Linked DNA regions of Homo sapiens: all the other regions are linked to region 1. The links come from fine-mapping of genetic effects on gene expression. A gene starts in region 1. Each other region holds a variant in brackets. All regions are shown on one strand. Distances are from middle to middle.

Region 1 (6,248 bases):
CCGGTGAGCTGTCACCTGCTCCAGGGGCCCCGAGACTGTGTCCAGAGGCCCAGGGACCTGCCCGGCGAAGTGTCACCTGCTCCAGGGGCCCCGGGACTGTGTGCAGAGGCCCAGGGACCTGCCCAGTGAGGTGTCACCTGCTCCAGGGGCCCCGGGACTGTGTCCAGAGGCCCAGGGACCTGCCCGGTGAGGTGTCACCTGCTCCAGGGGCCCCGGGACTGTGTGCAGAGGCCCAGGGACCTGCCCGGCGAGGTGTCACCTGCTCCAGGGGCCCTGGGACTGTGTCCAGAGGCCCAGGGACCTGCCCGGCGAGGTGTCACCTGCTCCAGGGGCCCCGGGACTGTGTGCAGAGGCCCAGGGACCTGCCCAGCGAGGTGTCACCTGCTCCCGGGGCCAGCGGTGTCCATGGGGTAAAATGTCCAGGCAAATGCCCCTGCAGTATTCACTCCAGTGAAACTTGTTCTCAGGGTTTGGAACTTTATTTATTTTATTAAAAGAAAAGCAAAGAGCTTGATCTGTGATTATTTTAACCACTGCATCTCAGTAGCTTTCTTAACTTGTTTTCACATAGTAGCACACTGATTCCAGAAAATACATCACAGAAGTTATTTAATAAAAAATAATTCTGTAGCAAAGGAAGAAAAACACTCCCAAAGAATTTTTTTTTCAGTTATATGAATAGGTAAAAGTGAAAATTGTCTATTGTGTCATCCAAGGAAAATCAGCTCTTTTTTAAAGAAAGAAATGTACATATTTCAATCCTTCTAAAATCAAGAATTACAATTTTTTTTTCTTAAGCATAACAAAGCATACACTACAGGGGCCTAAAGTGACTCTCAGGAGCTACCATTATGCCCTCTATTTTAGTAAGTGTGAAAAATAACTTTATAAGGCCAGAAGACCGCAATGTGTTTGCTACTTACCCCAAAGGAGTTCTTTCCCTCTCGAGATGAAGGGGAAGAAGGCTTCTGTGCAGGCCATAACCAGCGTGACAGACAGCACAGCGAGCGCTCTCATTCTAAAATTAACGGAAGGAGACAGAGTATGTAATCAAGCACTGACAAGGCCATGGGAACCGCTGTGTCCTTGTCTCCCTGCTGAGGGGCTCCCTCCACTGACTCCACGCAGCCTCTACCGCAGTGAGCGACCCTCACAGGCCTGGGGTCTGCGAGACCAGAGTCGCCGTCCATGTCAGGAGGTTACAGAAACTGCAGCGCTGAGCAGGCCTCCCAGGCCCCCATTATTCAAAAACAGAGTTTTTATGTTGGCAGCTCCAGTTGCCAATATATCTCAGTAATAACCTATTTAAATTTTTGGTAATGTCAAATAGTGTAACAGTACTGGGAATAATTATTGGGAATGAAAAAAATCTGTTTCCCCTAATGCATCTATGTGGCAAAAAGTGAGTACTATTAGAAATTTAGTCTTTATAAAAGTGATAAATAAAACCCCTAAATGCCTATTGAATTTCTTAAAGCATTCTTATGTCCATAAAATGATTTTAGAATTCTAGTTGTTAAGACAAAACAGAAGATTCAAAATTCATCATTTCTACTTTCAAATCCTTGTTTTCTTCTCTTAGGCTTTCTGTGGCTATTTTTGAGCCACTAATTTTGTTAAGCAGGATAGCACCAGTGAGTCCATGCTGACAGGAATGTGTCTCAGTAGACGGTGATCTAGGAATCGACCCTACAGGACTCACATGTTCCAGCGGAGGTCATTGCAAACAGCACTCATCAGTCAGTCAGTCAGCTTTGCTGAGAGACGCCACCCATACCTGCTATAATGGCCCAAATTACAGCCACTCTTGGGCCACTTTACAAGTTCCAATGATGAATTTCTCTTAGAAAATGGAAAAATAAAAAGCTTTACAACCTGACCTTTTTTCCTCTTCTCAGCCAACTGCACTGCTGAGTAATTTTCACGGCTGTAACTCTTCTGAAATGGGCGCCTTAATTGCCTTCCAGGGACTTGGTTACCCACCTTATAAACTGACTCCGCGCTTGGATAGCCCGTCAAGATGCTAGGAAGTCGAGTGGCGTCCGTTCTTCGTGGGGACAGAATGTCTGCGGGCTTTGTTGTGTTTGCGCCGGGCCTCTTGTGTGTCCTGACTGGTCAGAAACAAAGTGCCATGTCATCGGGGTCCACATGCAGTCCAGCCTCTGGCCGAATGAGTTAGGAAGAAGAGGGGAAAAATTATACAGGGAGAAAGAATAAACCAACTAAATCCAGACTTGTGACACTTGCATTTTCCTCCCTCTTACTTTCACAGTTAAATACCCTGTGAAAAAGGGGCTGTTAATCTTCCGAGGATTGGGTTGGGTGCAGCTCCCAGGCCCACCGATGACTCGCTCTACAACTCTGAGCCTTTTGCTTCCTGTCCCCAAGCCCCTAGTTTTCTTATCACTAAGAGGTGAATAAAGTACACTTTTTTCCAATTTGTTGAGGTGAAAAATGAGCACAGTTCAGTGTGTGTTCACCAGCATGCATTCTCCCCTCAATCCTCATCATGCACCCATCAAAAGAGTCCCCACAAAGACAGAGATGTTCTGTAGGAAGGTCACCATGACTGCATTCCGAACACTGGGAGATGACATGTTTTCATGGGTGATCTGCTTTCAGGCTGTATCTCATCATGAAAATGATAAAATAACACATCTTCAATGACCTGCTCCTGAGACTTGGAGCCTCTTCATGCCCCCGGAAGTCCTATGGGTTTCTAGTTTGTGAAAATCATCTTCATCTTTCTCCTTTTCTTTCCCTTCTCCAAATGTGACTGATGCTTCCTCTAGGTAATTTGAAACCAAATGCTAAAACACGATGCAAAGGCTTCAGAACATTAATCTTTGTTAGAAGATGTTCTGAAGCCCAAGAATGTGATGATTTGCCTTTAACATTCTCCCCTCAATCCTCATCACTCACCCCTCAAATGGGTGAAGATAACAAATGAGTTAGACAAGCTCTGAAGAGCAGGGAGGAGATCAGCCAACAGTGATATAATCCCCCCACGCACCCTGAGAATGGTCACTAGGAGGGTGGGGTTTGGATAGAGAGGAAGGACCAGACTCGGTGGCTCATTAAAGAGGATTCCATGGCTCAATGATGAGTTACTGTTGGGAACAGAAGAAAAGCACAGAGCCTCTGAGGATTCAGCCATCCTCGGTTTGATGCCTAAGCAAGTGAAAATCTCATGTACTGGCCCTAGGAAGGCCAGAGAAGAAAGGAGACTGGCTGTGACAAGCAAAGGAGCAGCAGACTCAGGCTTGGAATTGTGTTGGAGGTGCCCGTGGCACAGGCGGGCAGTGAGCTCTTGGGCATTTGGAAATGTACTTTCAGCTGTTGGGTGAAGTCCAGCTTAAAAAGACACATTTGGGAGTCCTGAGGGGGGATACAGTAGTGGACTGTGAGTGAATGGGATTCTTCTTGGGAGAATGTGGATGGAAAAGACCTCAAGAGTAGCTCAGAGCACCAGCGTCTAGGGGACACAGTCCCCCAGCCTGTGACTGCAACCTGCATGGCAAAAGGGGCTTTGCAGATGGGATTCAGTTAAGATTTTGAGGAGGGGAGATTAGCCTGGATTATCCACTGGCCTTAGTGTTAGCACACAGCTCCTTACAAGACAAAGGTGGGAAAGTCTGAGGGGAGAAAGGGGGAAGTGATGATGGAAACTGAGACTGGAGGGCCGTGGCCATGAGCCTCCAGAAACTGGAGGAGGCCAGGAGCAGGGCCTCTGGGGTCTCCAGGCACAACCAGGCCTGTCCCTGGACCTTGCTGCCAAAAGTCTCATTTGGATCTATGACCTCCGGAGCTGATGGAGTAAAGCCACTAAGCACGTGGCCCTTTGTTAAGGCATTCGCAGGAAATTCACACAGCCAGAAAGGTGGGTGGTAAAATGAGACAGCGTGGGGCAAATACTCAAGGAAGAGTTTGAAGAAGAAAGCATTAAAATGTAAAGTAAATACTGACTGGATGCTCTTTTCATCACAGAAGGACGCTTGAAAATGCCGAGTGCCGATGGAGACCTGGGAAGAGGGGGTTTGCATGCACAGCTGGGGGAGGCCGAGCCGGCACATCAACTCTCCAGGTCGTTTTGTAGCCTCTCCTCTAAGTTGCTGTTACCATTTGACCCCGCACAAATATGAGAAATGTATCTATCATTTGAAAATACATATTTTAGCTGGATTACATGATGTGCTTATTTTAATACTAATTAAACAATATAAATAATGCATCAAGTACAATGGAAGCTGTTACACTGGAAATGTTGAGAGGGGAGCGGAGAAAAGTCTGAGAATGGCGGGTTTGCAGGAGGCCCACTGGATAGCACACACATTTTTGAGAAAGAAGACGGGGGACTTGGGAAGGAAGATTTCTGCAGGGGGACGTGGAAAACCCGAGGCTATCACATAATGGGAGAATGAAAGAGAGGCAACTAAAGATCTGGCTGAAGCCCCCAGTCTCTGTCAGAAAGGAGCATTGGGAAGACGTGGCCACCCAGCAATGGAGAGCAGAGAGATTGCAGGGGAGACTCAGTGAGAAAGAGGACAGTTTTAGCCATGAGAAGGAAAGAAAAAAATACACGTCTTCTCCCATTATGAGAAAAATCAAGGAGCTCCAAAGAAGACAGAAATCTGCAAGGAACGCATGATACAGTAAGAAGCCAACTCACACATGGCAGGATGGGGGAATGCAGGGCCCTGCTACAAGCAGGTCTCAGTGAAGGAGTGGCACCAGCCCTGCGGTCCAGTCCCGGGCCCACCGAGAAGACAAGCACGCTTCCATTTTTTGGCAAGTGCCAATGAACTATTTGATATCCTGGGGAAATCTGATTACTGAATACCTTGATCAATGCATGAGAAACAGCAAATCACACATTTTGCTTGATGTCTCCATAGAAAGGCCACCTTTCTCCCTGCAGACATCGTGTGTTCTGTCCACAGACAAGAGGCTCTCCCTAACCGAGGCCCAGGACCACCTGTAATAGGCCCTTGCCTGTGACTGTAACAGAAAAGGGATCCAGGGTGGGCTCACACTTGACTCACCTGACATGTGGCCAGGGCCTGACTGCCTTGTGTTCTTCAAACTACAGCCTGATGTTGCCTTTTTTACTTGCCATTCACTTTTTAGTTTTTGTTTTCCTCGCCCCCAGCTTCATCAAGCTATCATTAACAAATACAAATTATACATATTTATGTTCACATGATGTTTTCATACATGTAAACACTGTGGGGTGATTAAATCAAGCTAATTAACATATACAGCACCTCACGTATTCATCCTTTTGTGTGTGTGATAGGAACATTTAATATCTATTCTCCTAGCGATTTTCAAATAAACAATAGTCATCAAGCTATACATTAGATCCCAGAACATTTTTATCCTGCAACTGAAACCCTCACTTTTGACCAGCATCTTTCTGCCCCTCACGGCACCTGTCCCCCCCATGGCACCAGCCCCCACCACACCTGCCCCCCACCGCACCTGCCCCGTAACCCTAGGTGTCCACCATCCACTCTCTGCTTCCATGAGCTCGACACTTTTAGATTCCATATAGGAGGGAGATCATGAGGTGTTTGTCTTTTGGTGCCTGGCTTGTGTGTGTATGTGCACGTGCATGTGTGTGTGTGTGTGCGCGCACTGTTTTTTGTATTTTTAAATTTGTAAGTTTATTTTTTAAGAGATGAACATGGATGAGAGGAGACTCAGGGACCTGATGACCCCCGACGGCCGTGGGCTGCACAGTGCCAGGACTGGATCCTGGAAGAGGAAAGGATGCAGATGGAAAAGCTGGGGATACCAGGGTGAGCTCTGAGATGTAATCACCAGCATTGGATCCACGTCCACTCCCTGGTCCTGGTTGCTGTGCTGTGGCCGTGCATAGAGTTAACACTGAGCAGGTGGGTGAAGGAGGTTTGGGAGCTCTGTGTTATCTTCCAACTCTTATTACAGCTCAATTCATTTTAAAACAAATTTGGAAAATAAAATGCTGTCATTCAAACTTAATTAAATTCCCCTGTAAAATTTGAAAAATTATTCAGCTTTGTTCAAACTCAGGTAGGTAATTTCCCAGTTTATATGAGTCAGATAAAACTAAAGACAAATACAGGAGGGTTTTTGTTAATTGAAATTCAGGAAATAAACATGGGGCTCTCTCACACCACAAAAAGCTCCACATTCAGCAGTAACCATTTTAATGGCTCCAGTTTTTCTGAGTAGGAGGTAGGAGTCTGGAATCTGGGGACAGCAGT
Region 2 (5,000 bases), 71 kb before region 1:
CAAGGGACTATAAATCATGCTGCTATAAAGACACATGCACACGTATGTTTATTGCAGCACTATTTAAAATAGCAAAGACTTGGAACCAACCCAAATGTCCATCAGTGCTAGACTGGATTAAGAAAATGTGGCACATATACACCAAGGAATACTATGCAGCCATAAAAAAACGATGAGTTCATGTCCTTTTCAGGGACATGGATGCAGCTGGAAACCATCATTCTGAGCAAACTATCGCAAGGACAGAAAACCAAACACCGCATGTTCTCACTCATAGGTGGGAATTGAACAATGAGAACACATGGACACAGGGCGGGGATCATCATATCCCGTCTGTCGTGGGGTGGGGGTCAGGGGGAGGGATAGCATTAGGAGAAATACCTAATGTAAATTACGAGTTAATGGGTACAGCAAACCAACATGGCACATGTATACCCTACGTAACAAACCTGCACGTTGTGCACATGTACCCTAGAACTTAAAATATAATTTAAAAAAATTAAAAAAAGAAGGAAGAGTTCATGGGGACCAGCTGCAGGGACCGCACTCACTCACCTCCACGGAGTAATGTCCATGGGCTGAAGAAAGCCTGGTGCAGCCACAGCCCGGGCAGGTCGGGGTGCTCCTGGAAGCTGGCGTCCAGCCTCCTCACCAGCGGGTGGATCGTGGCATGGCCGAAGCGGAAGGCGGCTGTGGAGAACACGTTGGACACAGTGGGGTTGGCGGTGGAGTCATAGCCTTCATAGGGACCCACGTACTGCTGGAAGGCCTCGGGTCCCAGGATCCTGGGGATGTAATCCCTCAGGGTGATGATCTGTGCAGATAGGAAAAGCATCTCAGTGAGGCCCAGGATACCAGAGGAGGGTCGCCTCGAGCGGCAGTGTGGAAGAGCATCTTCCTTGACAGCCCCAGGGAACTGGACCCTTCTCGTCTTGTAATAAGGGCCTCAGCTGAACTTCCCAGAAATGCCTTCTTGCTGATTTTTTCATGGATATTCAGGAGGTGCGTTTATAGGGCTGACTAGAGAGCCTCCTTCCCAGGATGGTGATGGGGCTGGCAGTGGCAAGAGACAGCACCTCTGTCGAGCCAACAATGGCCACCGGGCCAGGCTGGGCAGCTAGACTCCTGGCTGGATGATTGACAGTGGGGAGCAGTTCCTTTTTCTACAAAGCAACAATAATACCTAATTCCCAGAGCCTTTGTGAGGATTAAATCAAAGCATGTTGTATGGCAGAGAGCTCTGTCGATGGAAAATTACAGTTGCAATCACAGGGCCTGGAAATTACGATTTGATACATGGTCCCAGGAGAATTATGTACCAAGATTCTACTTTCAGGTTTAACAGTGTTTCTTTCAGACAGAAAAATCAGTGTCAAGTTGTTTTGGTATTTAAGGGGAATATTTTGGTCAATAAACTGCATCCAAATGAAGCATAATAGGAATAATTCTAGAATATGAATCTTCTCTTTTAGCTTACCAGTTTAGGAAGGCAAGTGGATTGTTTAAAAATAACCAATATTATTTACACACTTGTAATATGTTTCTTCCATGTGCCAGAATGCATTTCCTAAGCACGTAATTTGGCCCTTCAGGGAGACCAGGGAGAGCCGTGAGTCTTGTGTGGCCTGGGCCTTCACTGAAGGTGCACCTGCCCTCGCTGTCCCGCTCCACCTCGGAGACCTGGACAGACAAGGAGGAAAAGGCAGCATCCAAATGTTTCCCAGTGGGGTTTCCGTCCCTGTGCTAGTTCATCCATTGGTGCCAAGCACTGTGCTATGGGTCAGCATCCCAGAGAGCAGTTGCACGACTTCATCGTGCAAACAGCCTCTCCACCTCAGGTGCAATTTATGTGGCAACGTTTCTGAACCACACAGGTGTCCAAGGGGCTCCTCCTAACCGCGTGAGAAGGTCCGTGTGCTTCCCACATTCAGAACTCAGGCAGCACCTTCTGTTCCCTGGAACATTCTTTGGTTTCTTCTCACTACAATAGAAAGGAAAAGGCCTCTCTCTTTTTAGCCCAGGGACTGAGACAATTTCAAATTCAAGTGCAAGCTATTTTAAGGAAGACACCTCTTCCCCTTCTTGCCTGCCTGAAGTTTGACTTGTGAGCCAGGGGATGCAGCAAGCACAGGCAGAGAACTGAGGCCTGAGCCTCAGGTTCAGCAGCTCCACCTGTGCCCGGCTAGCTGTTAACAGAGAGGAAACCTGCGCCCTTCATCAGAGCCTCACAGACACTGTACTTCCTCAGTGTCTGATCTTGCCAGAGCTCTGAACAGTGTGTCTCTCCTCTTCCCCACTGCCTCCTCATCTGATCTGAAACATCCCTGGTAAGTGATTGGCTCAGATACTGCAGCCTCCCCTGGGAGCCGTCGAGGTTGGGCAGAAGCACCCATTGTTCTGACCAATGGGGCCTTAAAACTTGAATCTTGAGTCAGGCGCAGTGGCTTGCGCCTGTAATCCCAGCACTTTGGGAGGCCAAAGTGGGAGGATTGCTTGAGCCCAAGATCAAGACCAGCCTGGGCAACACAGTCAGACTCTGTTTCTACAAAAAAATTTAAAAAATTAAAAATTAGCCAGGTGTGGTGGTGTACACCTGTAGTCCCAGCTACTTGGGTGGCTGAGGTGGAGGATTGCTTGAGCCCAGGAGGTTGAGGCTGCAGTGAGCTATGATTGTACCACCGCACTTCCGCCTAGGTGATAGAGGAGATGCTTTCTCAAAAAGAGAAAAAGAAAACACTTGAACCTTGTAAACAGCTCTCTGGAATTTTCATGGCAATTCTTCTGGAAATGCTTCTGGTATTTCTTTACCTGGTCGCATGGGGGAAATGGTTACTCTGAACTATTGGACCTGGGCAGACGCCATACTGTGAGACCGGGGCATCGTCGCTGTCAGGTGCCCCTCCTGCTCACCTCCCAGGTGGGCCATGTCTTCTTCCTCTGCTGGCGGT[G/A]CCATGTAGAGGCCTCATCTTCCCAGGCTGCTTCAAGCTGCTCCTCCACGTCTGCTCTCACCCCAGCCTCCTGGTTCCCCACAGCCTCTGCCAAAGCCACCAGGTGCTGACTTGTGGCCACTCTCCATTTCTTTGCCTTCACAACTCACCAGTGGGAATGACTGAAAGGTCCACACTTGGGAAAATGATGGGCGTGAAGGTGACGGGAAGCCAGGACCCCAGCACACGGGGAGACCAGGACGAAGAGACCTGGAGATGCGATCCTTGTCACCGACGGTGGGAAACAGCCGCGTAGCCCCTGGCACAGGCTCCTCTGAACTTTCTGACTCTCGACTGCTTTCAAAGTCACCTACCCTGCTCTACGCAGAACATCACTCAGCATTTTCTCAAACATGCCCTATTAGTCCAATAAGAGGCTCCCATATGCTTGCTGAGGGTGCTCCAGGGAGGAGGCTGAGCAGGCACCCAGCTCCCCAAGGACGTGACACAGCCAGGCCTGGCTTGTGCTCCTCCGCAGGAAGCCCTGCAGCATGGCGCACCTGGGCTTGGTCCAGCCTTGAGGTAGGGGCCTGGCTGTCCCTGCAGGGCAGGGAACAGCCTCCACAGCTACCCCTGGAGAGGAACGACCAGGAGACTTTGTCAGCCAACATTGGAGGCCACTGGGGGATGGGGCCCTGCAGATAAAGGGGCCTGGGTGGGGCAGCAACAGCACCCACTGCAGGAACGGCCCTTTCTCTTTCTTTCCAGCCTTGGAAGCATGACTTTATCCATCTGCTCCTTTGCTCTGGAAGAGCAACCAATCTGAAAAAGTACTCAGCTACAGCAAAGGTCAGCAGCCGAGTGGCCCAGGGATGCAGCCCCTGCCCCGAGACATGGATCTGCCTGCCCGGGATGGGGATGTCCAGGGAGATCTGCAGTCCCTCCGGGGTCTGGTTCTACCTCCACACACATCCAAAGCAAAGCTTCTGTGGGTCCCTGGATATCTGGGGAAATCAAGGCTGTGCTCCAGAAATAGGTCTGCTATCTGATGGCCGGGGCATAGAAAACATCCACGCCAGATATTTGGGATGTCTTTATCTTTTCACCCTGTGGAACCCAAACTCCATGCTGCCTGGATGGCACACCCAGACTCCCCGAGGATGGCTACCTCCTCTCTGCCTCCCTCACACCTGTGCTGGGAAGGGTTTCCTTTCTCATTCTTTTCTTGTCTGTAGAACACAAAAGTTATCACCAAAGTGAGCAACTGATTGTGAGTTCTTGTCTTATGACACACCTAAAGCAGCTAGGGTTTTCTGGGATTGAAGAGCAAGAGCTTCAGTTCCTCCTGGTGGGAAGCAGGGCTTATGGATCCAGGGTCCTGTGGGATCTCAAGCCAGCAAGAGCAACTTTATCAGCCCTTCCTACGTGCGAGTCCCCCGAGAGATGCCGGATCCCAGGAACCAGCACAGAGGGCGGCCCTGCAGATCCCTCCCAAACATGCCCACAGCAGAAGTCCTGTGGCCCAGGGCTGAGGGAGGGGATAGCTCTCAGCTTTCGACAAAAGAAATTAGAGGAGCCAAGATCCTCAGAGTGGGGGCGGCTGTGGTTGGGCCCTGACAAATTAGAGTGGGTATGGTGAGGACAGACGCAGCAGCAGGGACGTGGTGTGGACGGATGCAGCAGGAGGAAGGTGGTGTGGACGGATGCAGGAGGAGGGAGGTGGTGTGGACGGATGCAGCAGGAGAAACATGGTTTGGACGGATGAAGGAGGAGGGAGGTGGTGTGGACAGATGGAGGAGAAAGCTGTGACTCCCGGCTCTGAGATGACCTTTCCTGTCTCTTGCTGATGTGTGCATTAGCCTGGCCCTGGCTGGCTCGTGTGTGTGTGTGTGTGTGTGTGTGTGTGTGTGTGTGTGTGTGTGTAGGGGGTTTGAGGGGTGATAGAGGGGGGGATGCTATTTCTCTTTCATAAGGTTGCCCTGGCATCTCTTTTCATTATCTAATGTTTTTCAGAAGAAGAGAGATTCAGATTACAAAGTTACCAAACTACGAGTCGGTAGAACCAGGGAGAGA
Region 3 (5,000 bases), 83 kb before region 1:
CCAGAACAGCAGCCATTCCTGCTCCTGCCTGCCCTGACGCCACTGTCCCATGAGACCAGAACCAGCGGTCCAGGTTTTGTGGCAGGGCAGTTCTGAAGTAGTTGGAGGACGCAAGCTGCTCTGACAGGAAGCCCCAGCCTCAGGAGTCGCACCCAGAGGGCTCTGCCTCAGAACAGTCAGATGGGGACTCTCATTCTGCTGTTCCCCGCAGAGGAACCCCAGTACACGGCTCTCCCCCCGGGAGGCTCTGTTGTCCAGCACACCTGCTCCCAGGTGCCCTGGGCTGACACCCGCTCAAGCCAGCACATGGGAGGAGCAGGTGGAAGTGGCCCACGGCTGTCTTGCCTTGCGGCCTGAAAGGTGCCTCCCCATCCTGCTCTCAAATTACCGCCAGGAAGCCACACTTGTCCACACCTAAACATGCGGGAGGCTGGGAGTGGAACCCAGTGGCTGGAGGAGGACCAGGCATGGGCTTGGGAATCAGCCACCTGTAGGAGGTGGAGGTGGAGGCGAGCCTTACTCTATGGGTTCCTGGAGTGGAGACGTTTGCTGCTGTGTTCCCTTTGAGAAAGCGCCCCTGCGAGTTCACCACAACTTTGCCTGGAACTCACGGACTCCCCTCTCTCTTCCCTCACCGGTGACCCCATTGGTCACGATTCCACGTGCCTGTCCTGAGGCCTCACTACCTAGAAAAAGGCCAGCTGGGAACATGGCCAGCCAAGGGGAGAGCCCTTGCTTTCTATCCCCAGATTGCTCCTGGGAAGATAACAGTTTCAGAAGCACCTTTTGGCGAAGAAATTTTCAATGACATTGCATTGTTAACTTATATCGGAAACATTCAGATGTTTTGTAATTGTCATTGAAGAAAGGACTGACCTTTGCAGAGGGGAGGCTGGAAATCCCATCCTTCCTGGGTGCAAGTGAGCTGCTCCCGGCCTTGGAGCTCATACCCGTGCCGGCAGGAATACACCAGCACGCGCCTCCCAGACTCCTCACAGTGCACAAAGTCCCCATTCTCCACGCTCTCTGGGAAGCCACACTTGTCGTCTATGAAATGTGGACAGGTTGACATGTAGTCAAACTACGAGAAAAGAAAACCACACACCAACGTCCCTGTCACGGGTGCGCTTGTGCCCTGGAGGGGCTGGTGCCAGGGCCGGGGAGCCCTGCTGTGGTCACTCACTGAGCACCCACGCAGCACACACGGCCTCTTCCCAGATCGGGCCCCGCGGGCTCCCTTTCTCTAGGCCTCCAGTTCCTTTCTCACTAGAGAAGGGCCCCGCCCCGCCCCGCCCCGCCCCAGGAGCTGCCCTGAGGGTGTAAGGCAGGGCGTTGACACTATTTTCTAAACAGTGAAAAGTTAAAATCAGCTCCTGGGGAAGATAAGCTTTGTTTGATGAGATGCACGTGCTGTAACGTGGTGTGAGAGGAGACCGAACTTCACCTTGAGGAAAGGTTTCCCTCCAGGCCTCCAGGTTCATGCCAGTGATGCTGTCACAAGACTCAAAGTCTTCGGGGAATTTGCCGACTTGGAAGGCATCCATGGGCACCCTGGTGAGGCCAGTGTTGTCACAGATGACCCGAGACAGGGAGTGCTTCTCCAGCTCACGCCTCTGTGCATCCGTGAAGACGTGGCTGTTCTCCCACCAAAACCTCCAGAGAAGGAGACAGTGAGTAAGGTCACAGTGCATGGAGAACCCCCAGGGCAGGCACTCAAGACCAGCTGCCCACAGCTGTGTGCTGCCAGCCTCTCCTGCGGCGTCTGCCCAGACCCCCAGCACCCGGGGCCACACAGGTGCAGGCGCTGAGGACCTGAAGGAGACCCTGTGGCGTCTGCCCAGACCCCCAGCACCCGGGACCACTCAGGTGCAGGCACTGAGGACCTGAAGGAGACCCTGTGGCGTCTGCCCAGACCCCTGAGCACCCGGGACCACTCAGGTGCAGGTACTGAGGACCCGAAGGAGATGTGGAGGGGCAGCACAGCGTGCACCTGGCTGTCTGAACGAGCGGCCTCAGAAGAGGGGCTCAGAGCCACTTTGCTTGTTGACTATGAGCATCTATTTTGCTGCATTGCTGTTATCTGGGGTGTATTGCTGTGTTAAAAACAAGAATGATGACAGCAAATCCAGCTATTTTAGAGGGTGCTCCTATTCTGAAGTCAACGTGCCCTGCACAGTCTCTCTACCTTCAGCTTCTTCCTCCAGGCCATGATTAATCAGAAAAATTGCAATGTGAAGAAATGAAGT[C/T]CCACTTTCCTCTCAAAATATGAAAATAGTTGCCAAAGCCCCAATAGCTCCTGGCCTGAATGCCGTAAAGCATGCATCTCCCATGTGCATCTCCCCTGCCACGTAAAACTCTTCTGCTTCCCATCACAGGGATGAATTCCTCTTAGAACATGAAAAAGAGGCCCCACTATACGTAAGTTAATTGATCCCATTTTTGCATTGGGGAGATATGTGGTCATAAATACATAGGATGAGAAATTGGGGGCACCACCCTAGGAACCTGCCAGCTGCCTCTGCACTGATTTCAGATGGCGCTTCAGCCACAGGTGGCATAAAACACGCATGGGAGACACACGTATGGGGCAAGCTGGTGAAATCTTCCCCCTTCTGAGCGAGTGGCTTCCCATGTCCCAGAGAATTCCAAACCGCACGTTTGCTGAAGACACAGCTATAAGGGAGACAAGTTCTCCTGGTGATTTCTACCCAGGTGTTCGTAGCTCTTTGAAAGGCTGCATCTCAGAAATTAGAGATAAAAGTCACACTGGGGAAAGGACAGGAGCCCCAGCGTGTGGCAGGTGCACTCTCTGGGAAGAACACAGATCCTTTACAACAAAAATCTGACCTCGGCACAGTGACTACCAAAAATAGAGAGAGAATTGGATAGGTAGGGATGTATTTAAAAGCAAAAGAAAACATTTTCCTATTGCTTTTGTCTGTGTTGTTCCAAAATCCTAACACTGGTATCCTGCGCACCTGCTTCTACGGGGGGCATGCACTCAGAGTCAGATGGGAACAGGATCTGCCTCTGACTCCCTCCAGTACAAACCTCCAAATTCTAGGTTGAACTTGAGGAGGGAGCAGACATGCATGAGGCAGGCAAAGCGGGACCTCAGCTTTCTGCTACCGGCAACCATCTGCTATCTGTAGGTGGGGTCTGGGGGGCCGGGAAGTCCTGTCCAGCCTAGAGGCATCCATGAGCACCGGGCATGGCCTGTGTCTGCGCCTGAGTCACTGTCCACCTCTGCGCTTTCCCGGGCATTGTCATGGGACGTGAGGGATGGGATGCAGTCTCCGGGCTGTCACGATTGTGTCACAATTTGTTTAGTTAGGTGCCTGCTTGCTCGTGTGGTTGGATCTAGGAAAAATCAGTGCTAGCTCCCATTCTAAGTGCTACGTGCTTCGTAGTTGCTTCATTGTTATAAAAACACTGTTCTAGGTTAAAGAAGCTGTGGGTGGGAGAAACAACCTGACCAGGCTTACGTAAGAGTTGAATGGTGGAGCCGGAATGTGAATGCAGGTCTGGCTGGCTTCAGAACCAACGCAGACCACCTGCCTCTGTGCAGAACGTGAAGGAAGACGCTCTGGATAGGAACGTACCAGTCACCGTCCCGCAGAGCCTTCATCTGCTTCCCAATGAGACAGGCAAACAGGGGCCCTGTCCGAGCCCTGGGGAGGAAGTTTTCAGCTAAGCCTCCCAGCCAGACATCGATGTTGTCAGGATGCTTGTACAAGTCCAGGATCTTGTCGGCCACGCTCCTGCTGGCGATGGCTGTGCTCAGGTCAGCGGGGGTCTCCAGGCGAGGCAGGCCGCAGAACTCCCTCCACTCATTGTAACCTGCACAGGGGAGAGGCTGCAGGGTTTCTCTCACAGAACTGAACTTTTGTTCAGCCCATCTCACTCATGCCATGGTCCCCGAGACTGGAAGCGCAGCAGGGCAGAGTCCTGTCCCACCCTGTGACACTGCCTGGCAGTTTGCCAGGCTAGGATATTCCAGCTCCGACGCCCGGCAGAGTCCTGTCCCACCCTGTGACACTGCCCGGCAGTTTGCCAGGCTAGGATATTCCAGCTCGGATGCCGGGCAGAGTCCTGTCCCACCCTGTGACACTGCCCAGCAGTTTGCCAGGCTAGGATATTCCAGCTCAGATGCCGGGCAGAGTCCTGTCCCACCCTGTGACACTGCCCGGCAGTTTGCCAGGCTAGAATGTTCCAGCTCGGACGCCAGAGCTCTTTTTGCAGGTTTGTTCATAAAGGAGCTGGAGACAGCAAGAATGCTGAGTCCGTGACATCTAAGTGCATTCCTGTTATTGCCCAGCCTGCACTTAGTTCTTGCCTCTACAGGGCAACTGACACAGCTCTGCATCCTCTTCAGAGTTTGCCTCCCACAATGACATCAGGAGCACACACAGAAGCCAGCACCCCCCCCCCCACCCACTCACACACACACACACAAATATCTTTATCTGTCTGGCCACTCATCTCCATATTGAAGACTGGAGATCTTTTCTTCCTGGGAGCCCTGGTGAATCCCTGGCCTCTCTTCTCACTCCTCCTCCTGCTCACTGACCCACGCCTCAGCTGCTCCCTGCCCAGGCCCCCGTCCATGGTCTGACTCTGTGGCTGCGCCTTTGCCTGACACTCGTGCCCCTCCCTGTGCCCCACTCCTCACATCTGCCTTCGTCCCTCATCCACTCCTCTTGGTTCAGCTGTCACCTCCTCCAGAAGTGCTCCCTCCTCAAGGATGGGCGACCCTCACTCCCACGGGTTCTGATCAGAGCGCCGCCCAGGGCCTCTGCTACTGTCTCTACTCATCCACCCGCCCTGTGTGGTGCTTTAGCTAAGACTGTCTGGTTCTACTCTCAGCGCCCTGCCCACCACAGGCTCCCAGCAGAAGTCCTGGACAAGCACACGCACAGCAACATGTGAGCACTGGGCTGGTTCCCCCCAGGGACAGTGAGGCTTTCATGGGACAGAAGGTTGGGCCTCTTGGTGTCTCA
Region 4 (6,248 bases), 240 kb after region 1:
CACAGGGTTGTTGAGACAGCACCTGAATCTGCCCTTTAGCGTTCAGAAGCACATTTCACTGTTATCTATTTGAAATTCTTTCCCAATGCCTGTTATTTTATACCCGTAATCACCTTATCAGTAATTGGAGAGGAAAATCAAAATATTTTTAATGACTGCAGTCTTCCAAAATCCCAAAGTTCATGCTATAGACAAAGGAGACACATGACTAATGGCAGCAGATCCAAGCCACCATTGACTGAATGAGCTAACAGGTAAATAGTCAATAAATTTACATTTGACAGTCACGCTTCCACTCTAAATTTCTATAAATTTATTTCTGATGAATAGGTATCTTGTCATCCATATCCCAGAACAGAAATGTGAATAGTTATATCTTTCTTCTATCACAAATAAAAGTCCATTATTTTTTAAAACCCAATATCAAGAATTCTTAATGAGAAAAATAGACTTAGTTTATTTTTATTAGGTGTCAAAAATAAACAATCATATTAGAAAACATGTAGTATATGATCAATGTTTATTAAAACACCTAATCTTAAAAAAAATTAACCCTAACCTATCAAAACTGCTTAGATTACCCTCAGGCAATGCTGGTTGGAATGTAAAATGGTGCGGCTGCTGTGGAAAATAATTTGGCAGCCACTCAAAAAGTTGAGCCTAGAGTCACCAGAGGACCCAGCAATTCCAGTAGTCGGCATCCACTCGGTGGGAAGGAAAACATCTCCCAAGAAAAACGCATTCACGGATGCTCATGGTGGTATAATTCACAATATCCCCCAAACAGAAGCAAGACAAATGCCCATCAGCTGATGAATGGATAAACAAAACCCATACAAAGGGTATGTACATGGGTCCGTATACACAGATATATTCCCTAGGACGGATGCTGTTCAGCTAAGAGAATGCAGCACCGATGCCCGCGACATTGGGGGCGGACTCTGAAACTACACTGGGGGAAGATGCCAGACACAAAGGCATCTTTGTGCGGGATTCCATTACAGAAAACGTCCGGCGCAGACGGAGATCCTCATTCCAGGTCGGATGCCACGGGGTTTGAGCCACCAGCAGATGTTGACTTCAGGGGAGCCTGGGCCTGGCCTTCAAGGCCCTTCCTGATTACCCACAAAGAGACAGGAAGGAAATTCCCGGCTGCCGAGGGCTGGGGTGGGGAGAGTCCGGGCTGACTAACTGGCACAGGGTTTATTTTTGGGATGAGGGAAATGTTTTGGAATTAGACAGTAGCAATGCCTCTACAACGTAGTGAAATATTTAAAACTGCTGAAGTGTTACTTTAAAACGGTGAATTTTCTGTTGCATGAATTGTATCTTTATAAAAAGACCAAGAGCCTGACTTGTGAAAAATAAAACCCTACTTTGACTCAGTCTCAAACGGTTGTTTATTTTCTCTTTGATAAACGTTTTAAAATGTGGAAACTGGACATTTTCCGCACAGATCTGCCGTGATACTCTCTTTCCCCACTCACTGGAGCTGCTCGGTGGATTTCTGCTTCATGCAGTCAGAAAGTGAAGTCTGCTCAGGCACAGCAATTTTACCTTCACGGTGTGAATTCAGCAGAGGACGTTTCGCCTGAATTTATAGAGAGATTATGGCTGTCTTGCTTAAATTGTTATGGATACTAAGATTTTAACATTTTTCACTGTAAAGAATGAAATAAAAGGAGAATAGACACTTATTGAATTAATGGGGACTCAGCACCCCTGGCCTCTGTGATCTGCACCCCAGGCTGCCCTTTCCTGCATGTGCCCGAGGACGTGTGGGGTGGTCCGTGTAGCTGGGCCTGTCCAGGCAGAGCCATCAGAGTCAGCACAGCCCCGCTCAGGATGCCGGCAGCAACGCTCATTGAAGTCACTATGTGACTGGCAATGGACCCCGGAGCCTGCAGGTTTTAGTGGAGCCCACGGACAGAAGTCAGGATGTGAATCTCAACAGAGACAGCCTCCGGCCCCACAGGCTCAGGCACTAGAATTGCAAGAGCTGCCCATCCTCAGAGGGAAACACAGGCTCAGTGCTATGGGGCTCTAGGCAGGGGCTCACGGTGAAAACCTCCACCTGGGGCACTTCCTCTGCCATCTGGTGTTGCAGTGTTGCTGCTGCTGTTGCTTAAATTCTGCTCCTTCAAAGGCACCCAGGGAAGCTGGCTTAGACGCAGCACCCATCTCACTCGGCCTGTGAAGTCACCTTGCCTGAGAGAGAAGTCAGGAACGGCCCCAGGGTGAGTGTCCTCTGCCTCCCACCCCCACTTAGCAACATCCGAAAGCACCCCCTGCTTTCTGTCTGTCTCCTCCTTTATCAATGCCACCTCCTCCTGTCCAAGCCACTATCTTCTCTTCTTTTCTTTCTGGCAAAAATCTATGAAAAGTCTTAGTTTCTTCCTTCGTGAGCCTGTATGGTCACAGCTGCTGCAGAATCTGCAGACACTCACGCTGCCCCCTCACAAGTGAGTCCTCCTCCCCCATCCGAGCTCACTGCTGGGCCTCCTGATGTGCGTCTGACACCTGAGTCTCCCTGCTGGCTCCAAGAACTTCTGTGCAGCCCTCAAGTCCACCCCCTTCCCAACTCACAGCAACGTTTCTCAAAACCCCAGGGGTGCACCACTGTGCCGCGTGTGACATTTCGCTCCCTTAAACCTTTGCCCCATTGCTAACATGTTCTGCCTCTACGGCCCTGGGAATATTCGCCTTTCTCATGCACAGCCCCTCAGCACCCCTTACTCTTTTTCCTCAAGAACCCTCTAGGTCTTCATTCATGCTCCCGTGGCTCCTTCTAGCAGAGGGAGTGGTCTCTGAGGATGGCAAGGCATGCAGTGAATCTTACTGATCCAGGTTTGCTACAATGGCAGGAAGATCGATTTTCCTAAGATTGTGAATAGCATAGTTATCCTGCTGTGATCGATGGGAAAAATGGAGTTGCTGAAATGGATTTGTTCCTGGTTGCTCAGGAAGATGAAAGCAGAAGTCATGCTATGAGTCTAATGATGCTTTTGATCAAATGCTGAAACAGGAAAAGTTCACTTGTTCCCCTTGCAGGGCTTGTGATGGGGGAGTGGCTCGCTTCTTCGGTGCCCCACTACTCAAACCTCTGGCGGGGGTGCCATAGAGATGGGCCGGCTTTGGGGCTCTGACCCCTGGCAGCATCTAGGGGTGGATGTTTCCAGCTCCTGAAGCCCTAGTGGGAGTGTGTTCCAGGG[C/T]GCTCTGTTAGTTCTGCCGTCTGTGGGCGGCCTGTAGGCTTCAGTTCTGCCGTCTGTGGGCGGCTTCTAGGCTTCAGTTCTGCCGTCTGTGGGCGGCCTGTAGGCTTCAGTTCTGCCGTCTGTGGGCGGCCTGTAGGCTTCAGTTCTGCCGTCTGTGGGCAGCTTCTAGGCTTCAGTTCTGCCATCTGTGGGCGGCTTGTAGGTTTCAGTTCTGCCGTCTGTGGGCGGCCTGTAGGCTTCAGTACTGCCGTCTGTGGGCGGCCTGTAGGTTTCAGTTCTGCCGTCTGTGGGCGGCCTGTAGGTTTCAGTTCTGCCGTCTGTGGGCGGCTTCTAGGCTTCAGTTCTGCCGTCTGTGGGCGGCCTGTAGGCTTCAGTTCTGCCGTCTGTGGGCGGCTTGTAGGCTTCAGTTCTGCCGTCTGTGGGCGGCTTCTAGGCTTCAGTTCTGCCGTCTGTGGGCGGCCTGTAGGTTTCAGTTCTGCCGTCTGTGGGCGGCCTGTAGGCTTCAGTTCTGTCGTCTGTGGGCGGCCTGTAGGCTTCAGTTCTGCCGTCTGTGGGCGGCCTGTAGGCTTCAGTTCTGCCGTCTGTGGGCGGCTTCTAGGCTTCAGTTCTGCCGTCTGTGGGCGGCTTCTAGGCTTCAGTTCTGCCGTCTGTGGGCGGCTTCTAGGCTTCAGTTCTGCCGTCTGTGGGCGGCTTCTAGGCTTCAGTTCTGCCGTCTGTGGGCGGCTTGTAGGCTTCAGTTCTGCCGTCTGTGGGCGGCTTCTAGGCTTCAGTTCTGCCGTCTGTGGGCGGCCTGTAGGTTTCAGTTCTGCCGTCTGTGGGCGGCCTGTAGGTTTCAGTTCTGCCGTCTGTGGGCGGCTTCTAGGCTTCAGTTCTGCCGTCTGTGGGCGGCTTGTAGGCTTCAGTTCTGACGTCTGTGGGCGGCTTCTAGGCTTCAGTTCTGCCGTCTGTGGGCGGCCTGTAGGTTTCAGTTCTGCCATCCGTGGGCGGCCTGTAGGCTTCAGTTCTGCCGTCTGTGGGCGGCCTATAGGCTTCAGTTCTGCCGTCTGTGGGTGGCTTCTAGGCTTCAGTTCTGCCGTCTGTGGGCGGCTTGTTGGTTTCAGTTCTGTCGTCTGTGGGTGGCTTGTAGGCTTCAGTTCCGCCATCTGTGGGCGGCCTGTAGGTTTCAGTTCTGCCATCCGTGGGTGGCTTGTAGGCTTCAGTTCTGCTGTCTGTGGGTGGCCTATGTTAATCAGCTCAATTAGACCCTCTGCCTTATCGCAAGGACAGAAGGCTTTCTGTATCCCGGGGTTCTTGCCTTAGCATACCAGAAGAATCAGATCCCACGTGAGCTTGGAGGGTTGGCACAAGGTTTTATGGAGTGTTGGTAGCTCTCAGAAGATGGATGGAGAGCCAGAAGGGGCATGGAGTGGCAAGGTGGTTTTCTCCTGGAGTCTCGTCCAACCACCCCAGCCAAACTCCACATCATTCTGCCAGTCGATAGCCTGCCAGTGTCTGCTGGTGCCTGTCAGCATACTCTTCCGCTCCTCTGCTCTTCTCCACATCCGGCCACTTGTGTCTCTGCCCACTAGGGTCTTGGGGTTGTTATAGGCATAGGATGGGGGCGTGGTAGGCCAGGGTGGTACTGGAAAACGCAACATTTGGGTGCAAGAACAGGAGTGCCTGTCCTCACTTAGGTCCATGGGCACAGGCCTGGGGGTGCAGCCCTCGCCAGGGACCCGCCCTTCTCCTCCCAGCACTTCCCTGCCCCCCTCCTGTATCAGTGAAAAACCCAATGCATGATCAGAACTCAACTACTGATGTGCCTGAGAGCTACAGCCGGGCCACTCGGGGCAGGAGAGAAGGAAGGCATTGACAATAGGGACATCAATGGAAGAGAGAGAGAAAGTAAAACAGTCAATATGAACCCCCAGGGAGGGAAGCTGTTCCTTCCCATGAGAGAGTGACAGGAAGGACAGCCCACCAGCCCCCATGAGAAGGAACCCGACTGTCGGCTCAGCGGGAGGTCCTCATTCCACATCGGATGCCCTGGGGTTTGAGCCACCAGCAGATGTTGACTTCAGGGGAGCCTGGGCCTTGCCTTCGAGGCCTTTCCCGATTACCCACAAAGAGAGGGCAGTGATGCCCTCTGCTAAATCAAAGGAACGGTGGTGACTCCAACCTTTATAAAGCCATGACAGCTGAATAACATTAGTAAAAGTTACAACAACTATCTTCACTAAAACATTTTTCTAGATTTAGGGTTCATCACTTTCATATTGGGTCACAATTCAAGTATAATAGAGGATTACAAGCTTTGTGCCAAAATATGTCAGGGACTTCATAGCATAAATGTACCATTATTTTCATTTTTTGCACTGAAAATTTCTCAGATCAACATAGGTATTTTACGTGTAAACTTTGCTTCTACGTTAACATATAGATAAATACAATCATGGTGAGTTTGCATGAAGGAACGAGCATGTAGTTAAGTGACGAGAAGCACAGTCGAGAAGCACGGTCTGATAACACTTCCTTCAAAAAAGCCCGTGGATGTGTTAAAACATACAACGTCATGGGACTACATGATGCCACGGTGCCTGCCTATACTTTTCTTCTCTCTGAATGTACACTCAGCAAATGATTAATATCCCAGTCCATGTGGTAGCATTTGGATAAATAATGTGGCAAGAAAGGAATTTCTCCAGCACCCTGGCATTTCTCCTCTTCCCACTTACCTAACGGGAGCTTCAGAAATGCCGGCGCTTCCCTGAGATACTCAACGGTGATGGTAACTTCATCGCCAGCATTTCTCAGCAGATGCACCTGTCAATATGACAAAAATAGCTACTTTTACCACCACAAAAGAACCAGACACAGAATTAAAAAATAAAATCTCTCTACCTCTCCTGTTTCCCAAGAATTCAAAGTTCATAGTTACCTCTGAAACACGGAAAACTTTGTGGGCTTCAGCTGGAGTAAAGAAGAGTGGTTATCACCTCCGAGACCACCTACCCCCCACACTCTATCTGCGTAAACAAGTGCATGAGTGAGCAGGGG
Region 5 (5,000 bases), 110 kb before region 1:
ACAGTGGGGGGATGTGGGGGTTTGCTCACAGTGGGTGAGATTTGGTTGGGTTGCACACAGTGCGGGGATTTGAGGAATGTTGCACACAGTGGGGGATTTGTGCTTTTGCTCACAGTGGGGGAGATCTGGGGGGGTTGCACACAGTGGGGAGATTTGAGGAGGTTGCACATAGTGGGAGGATTTGAGGAGGTTCCTCACATTGGGGGGATTTGAGGAGGTTGCACGCAGTGGGGTATTTGAGGAGGTTGCACGCAGTGGGGGGATTTGAGGAGGTTGCTCACATTGGGGGGATTTGAGGAGGTTGCACGCAGTGGGGGGATTTGAGGAGGTTGAACACAGTGGGGGGGATTTGAGGAGGTTGCACACAGTATGGGGATTTGAGGAGGTTGCATACAGTGTGTGGGATTTTGGGAGGTTGCACAGAGTGGGGGGGATTTGGGGAGGTTGCCCAGAGTGGGAGAAATTTGGTGAGGTTGCACACAGTGGCGGGATTTTGTGTGGTTGCCCACAATTGGGTGGGATTTGGGGAGGTTGCACAGATTGGGGGGGGATTTGGGGAGTCTGCAGAGAGTAGGGGTGACTTGGAGAGGTTGCACAGAGTGGTGGGGATGTGAGGAGGTTGCACACAGTTGGTATTTGGGGAAGCTGAACACAGTTGGAGGGATTTAGGGAAGTTGCACACACTGGGAGGATTTGGGGAGGTCGCACACAGATGGGGGGATTTGAGGAGGTTGCACACAGTGGGGTATTTGAGGAGGTTGCTCACAGTGGCGGAGGATTTGAGGAGGTTGCACACAGTGGGGGGGATTTGGGGTGGTTGCACACAGTGCGGGGATTTGGGGAGGTTGCTCACGGGGGGTATTTTGGGAGGTTACACAGTGAGGGGATTTGGGGAGGTTACACAGTGAGGGGATTTGGGGAGGTTGCTCACAGTGGGGGTTTTGGGGAGGTTGCACACAGTGGGGGGATTTGAGTAGGTTGCATATAGTTGGGGGATTTGGGGCGGTTGCACACAGTGGGAGGGATAGGGGAGGTTGCACAGAGTGGGGGGATTTGAGGAGGTTGCACACAGTGGGGGTATTTGCGGAGGTTGCAGAAAGTGGGGGGATTTGGGGAGGTGGCACACAGTGAGGGGATTTGAGGAGGTTGCTCACAGTGGGGGGATTTGAGGAGGTTGCACACAGTGGGGGGGATTTGAGGAGGTTGCACACAGTGTGGGGATTTGAGTAGGTTGCACAGAGTGTGGGGGATTTGTGGAGGTTGCACAGAGTGGAGGGGATTTGGGGAGGTTGCACACACCGGGGGATTTTGTGACATTGCCCACAAAGCAGGGGATTTGGGGAGGTTGCACAGAGTGGGGAGGATTTGGGGAGGTTGCATAGATTGGGGGGGATTTGGGGAGGTTGCATAGATTGGGGGGGATTTGGGGAGGTTGCACAGAGTGGTGGGGATTTGAGGATGTTGCACACATTAGGTGGGATTTGGGGAGGTTGCATACAGTGGGGGGGGGATTTGGGGAGGATGAACACAGTTTGGGGGATTTAGGGAAGTTGCACACACTGGGGAGATTTGGGGAGGTTGCACAGAGTTGGGGGGATTTGTGGAGGTTGCTCACAGTGGCGTGGGATTTGAGAAGGTTGCACACAGTGAGAGGATTTGAGGAGGTTGCGAACACTGGGAGGATTTGCGGGGGTTGCACACAGTGGCGGACTTGAGGTTGCACACAGTGGAGGGGATTTGGGGAGGTTGCACACAGTTGGGGGATTTGAGGTTTCACACAGCATGTTGATTTGGGGGGGTTGCTCACATTGGGGGGCATTTGGGGGGTTGCACACAGTGGGGGGAATTGAGGTTGCACACACTGGGGGGATTTGTGGTTTTGCTCACAGTGGGGGAGATGTGGGGTGTTTGCACACTGTGGGGGGACTGGGGTGGTTGCTCACAGTGGGGGGGACTTGGGGGTGTTGCACACATCGGGGGGATTTGAGGAGGTTGCACACAGTGGGGGGATTTGAGGAGGTTGCACACAGTGGGGGGATTTGGAGGTTTGCACATGGAGGGATGGGGGAGGTTGCACAGAGTCGGGGGGATTTGGGGAGGTTGCGCACAGTGGGAGGATTTGGGGAGGTTGCGCACAGTGGGGGGATTTGGGGAGGTTGCACACAGTGGGCGGATTTGGGGAGGTTGCACACAGTGGGGGATTTGGGGAGGTTGCTCACAGTGGGGAGATTTGGGAAGGTTGTAAACAGTCGGGGGATATGAGGAGGTTGCGCACAGTGGGGGGATTTGAGGAGGTTGCACACAGTATTGGGATTTGAGGAGTTTGCACACATTGTGGGGGATTTTGGGAGGTTGCACAGAGTGGGGGGCATTTGGGTAGGTTGCACACGGGGAAATTTGGTGAGGTTGCACACAGTGGCGGGATTTAGTGTGGTTGCCCACAGTGGGGTGAGATTTGGGGAGTTTGCAGAGTGGGGGTGATTTGGGGAGTTTGCACAGAGTCGGGGGGATTTGGGGGAGGTTGCACATAGTGGGTGGGATTTTGGGGCTTGCACACATTGGGGGGATTTGAGGAGGTTGCACACAGTGGGGGGATTTGTGGTTTTGGTCATAGGGAGATTTGGGGGGTTTGCACACAGTGGGGGGATTTTGGGAGGTTACACACAGTGGGGGGATTTGAGGAGGTTGTACCCAGTGGGGGTTTTGGGGGTTTGCTCACAGTGGGGGAAATTTGGGGGTGTTGCAAACAGTGGGGGGTTTTGGGGAGGTTGCACACAGTGGGGGGATTTGAGGAAGTTGCACACATTGGGGGGATTTGTGGTTTTGCTCACAGTGGGGGAGATTTGGTGGAGTTGCACATAGTGAGGGGATTTGAGGAGGCACACAGTGGGGGG[GA/A]TTTGAGGAGGTTCCACAGAGTAGGGGATTTGAGGAGGTTGCACCCAGTGTGAGGGATTTGGGGAGGTTGCACACAGTGAGGGGATTTGAGCAGGTTGCACAGTGGGGGGACTTGGGCGGATTGCACACAGTGGGGGACTTGAGGAGGTTGCACACAGTGAGGGTGATTTGGGGAGGTTGCACACAGTTTGGGGATTTGAGCAGGTTGCACACAGTAGGGGGATTTGGGGGGGTTGCACACAGTGGGAGGGATAGGGGGAGGTTGCACAGAGTTGGGGGATTTGGCGAGGTTGCTCAGAGTTGGGTGGATTTGGGGAGGTTGCACACACTGGGGGGATTTGGGGAGGTTGCACAGAGTCGGGATTTGAGGAGGTTGCACACAGCGGGGGAGATTTGAGGAGGTTGTACAGTGCGGGCAATTTGAGGAGGTTACATCACAGTGGGGGGATTTGGGGAGGTTGCTCAGAATGTGGGGATTTGGGGAAGTGGCACACAGTTGGGGGATTTGAGGAGGCTGCTCATAGTGGGGCGATTTGGGGAGGTTGCTCACAGTGAGTAGAGTTGTAAAGGTTGCACACACTGGGGGGAATGTGGGGAGTTTGCACACAGTGGGGGGATTTGGGGAGGTTGCCCACAGTGGGGGGATTTGAGGAGGTTGCAGGCAGTAGGGGGATTTGAGGAGGTTGCACACAGTGAGCGGATTTGAGGAGGTTACACACAGTAGGGGGATTGGGGGGGTTGCACACAGTGGGGGACCTGAGGTTGCACACAGTGGGTGGGATTTGGGGAGGCTGCACACAGTGGGAGGATTTGAGGAGGTTGCACACAGTGGGTGGGATTTGGGGGGTTGCACACAGTGGGGGGATTTGGGGGGGTTGCACACAATGGGAGGGAAAGTTGGAGGTTGCACAGAGTGGGGGGGATTTGGGGAGGTTGAACAGAGTGGAGGGATTTGGGGAGGTTGCTTACAGTAGGGGGATTTGGGGTGGTTGCACACAGTGTGGGGATTTGAGGAGGTTGCTCACTGTGAGGAGATTTGAGGAGGTTGCACACAGTGGGGGGATTTGAGGAGGTTGCACACAGTGGGGTGGATTTGAGGAGGTTGCACACAGGATGGGGATTTGAGGAGGTTGCACACAGTTTGGGGGATTTTGGGAGGTTGCACAGAGTTGGGGGTATTTGGGGAGGTTGCACGGAGTGGGGGGAATTTGGTGAGGTTGCACACAGTGGCAGGATTTGGTGTTGTTGCCCACAATGGGGGGGATTTGGGAAGGTTGCACAGAGTGGGGGGGATTTGGTGAGTTTGCAGAGAGTAGGGGGGATTTGGGGAAGTTGCACAGAGTGGGGGGATTTGGGAAGGTTGCACACAGTAGGGGGGATTTGGGGAGGTTGATTACAGTTGGGGGGATTTAAGCAAGTTGTACACACTGGGGGGATTTGGGGAGCTCACACACAGTTGGGGGGATTTGAGGAGTTTGCTCACAGTGGGGGGATTTGGGGAGGTTGCACACAGTGAGGGGATTAGAAGAGGTTGCACACAGTGGCGGTATTTGGGGGGGTTGCACACAGTGGGGGACCTGAGGAGGTTGCACACAGTGGGGGGGATTTGGGGAGGCTGCACACAGTGGGGTGATTCGAGGAGGTTGAACACAGTGGGGGGTGATTTGAGGAGGTTGCTCACAGTAGGGGGATTTGAGGAGTTTGCACACAGTGTGGGGGATTTGGGGAGGTTGCACAGAGTGGTGGGGATTTGGGGAGGTTGCTCAGAGTGGGGGGGATTTGGGGAGGTTGCATAGAGTCGGGGGGATTTGGGGAGTTTGCATAGAGTGGGAGGGAACTGAGGAGGTTGCACACAGTGGGGGTAATTTGGGGAGGTTGCACAGAGTGGGAGGGATTTGGGGTGTTTGCACACAATGGGAGGTATTTGGGGAGGTTGAACACAGTGGGGGGATTTAGGGAAGTTGCACACAGTGGGGGGATTTGGGGAGGTTGCTCACAGTGGGGGGATTTGGGGAGGTTGCTCACAGTGGGGGGATTTGGGGAGGTTTTACACAGTGGGGGGATTTGGGGAGGTTGCTCAAAGTGGGGGGATTTGGGAGGTTGCA

Which allele goes with the higher level. Alleles are on the strand shown, and positions count from the first base shown. SD is a standard deviation of normalised expression in the study named. Not every link is listed here.
For the expression in skeletal muscle of the gene that starts at base 1,963 in region 1, A is the low allele of the variant in region 2 and G is the other (small effect, 0.29 SD a copy in GTEx).

Evidence for each region. PIP is the estimated chance that this variant, and not a neighbour inherited with it, causes the effect. A credible set is the group of variants that fine-mapping cannot tell apart.
Region 2: its variant is the best candidate, but not a certain one, in a credible set for the expression of TPO in skeletal muscle (GTEx, PIP 0.82).
Region 3: its variant is the best candidate, but not a certain one, in a credible set for the expression of TPO in T cells (TOPMed, PIP 0.80).
Region 4: its variant is the best candidate, but not a certain one, in a credible set for the expression of TPO in tibial nerve (GTEx, PIP 0.51).
Region 5: its variant is the best candidate, but not a certain one, in a credible set for the expression of TPO in thyroid (GTEx, PIP 0.77).

Annotation. Positions count from the first base shown.
Region 1 is chr2:1,409,178-1,415,425 of GRCh38, reverse strand. It overlaps TPO (thyroid peroxidase), which reads right to left and starts at 1,963. Exons shown (of 17, transcript NM_001206744.2): 1 at 1,881-1,963; 2 at 924-1,018. The coding sequence starts at 1,017.
Region 2 is chr2:1,480,410-1,485,409 of GRCh38, reverse strand. It overlaps TPO (thyroid peroxidase), which reads right to left. Exons shown (of 17, transcript NM_001206744.2): 9 at 556-814. It overlaps LALTOP (lung cancer associated lncRNA targeting TOP2A), which reads left to right. Exons shown (of 7, transcript NR_198949.1): 7 at 1-508. Among named protein-coding and RNA genes, the nearest start is that of TPO, 69 kb to the right of the region's middle. The variant G/A (reference allele first, on the strand shown) is at 2,949.
Region 3 is chr2:1,492,642-1,497,641 of GRCh38, reverse strand. TPO (thyroid peroxidase) reads right to left here. Exons shown (of 17, transcript NM_001206744.2): 11 at 3,603-3,840; 12 at 1,445-1,653; 13 at 877-1,047. All of the region lies in intron 6 of LALTOP (lung cancer associated lncRNA targeting TOP2A), which reads left to right. Among named protein-coding and RNA genes, the nearest start is that of TPO, 82 kb to the right of the region's middle. RefSeq lists an enhancer at 1,020-1,655. The variant C/T (reference allele first, on the strand shown) is at 2,247.
Region 4 is chr2:1,165,314-1,171,561 of GRCh38, reverse strand. SNTG2 (syntrophin gamma 2) reads right to left here. Exons shown (of 17, transcript NM_018968.4): 7 at 5,927-6,014. Among named protein-coding and RNA genes, the nearest start is that of SNTG2-AS1, 220 kb to the right of the region's middle. The variant C/T (reference allele first, on the strand shown) is at 3,213.
Region 5 is chr2:1,523,199-1,528,198 of GRCh38, reverse strand. All of the region lies in intron 15 of TPO (thyroid peroxidase), which reads right to left. The region is part of intron 6 of LALTOP (lung cancer associated lncRNA targeting TOP2A); the gene reads left to right. Among named protein-coding and RNA genes, the nearest start is that of LALTOP, 100 kb to the left of the region's middle. The variant GA/A (reference allele first, on the strand shown) is at 2,895.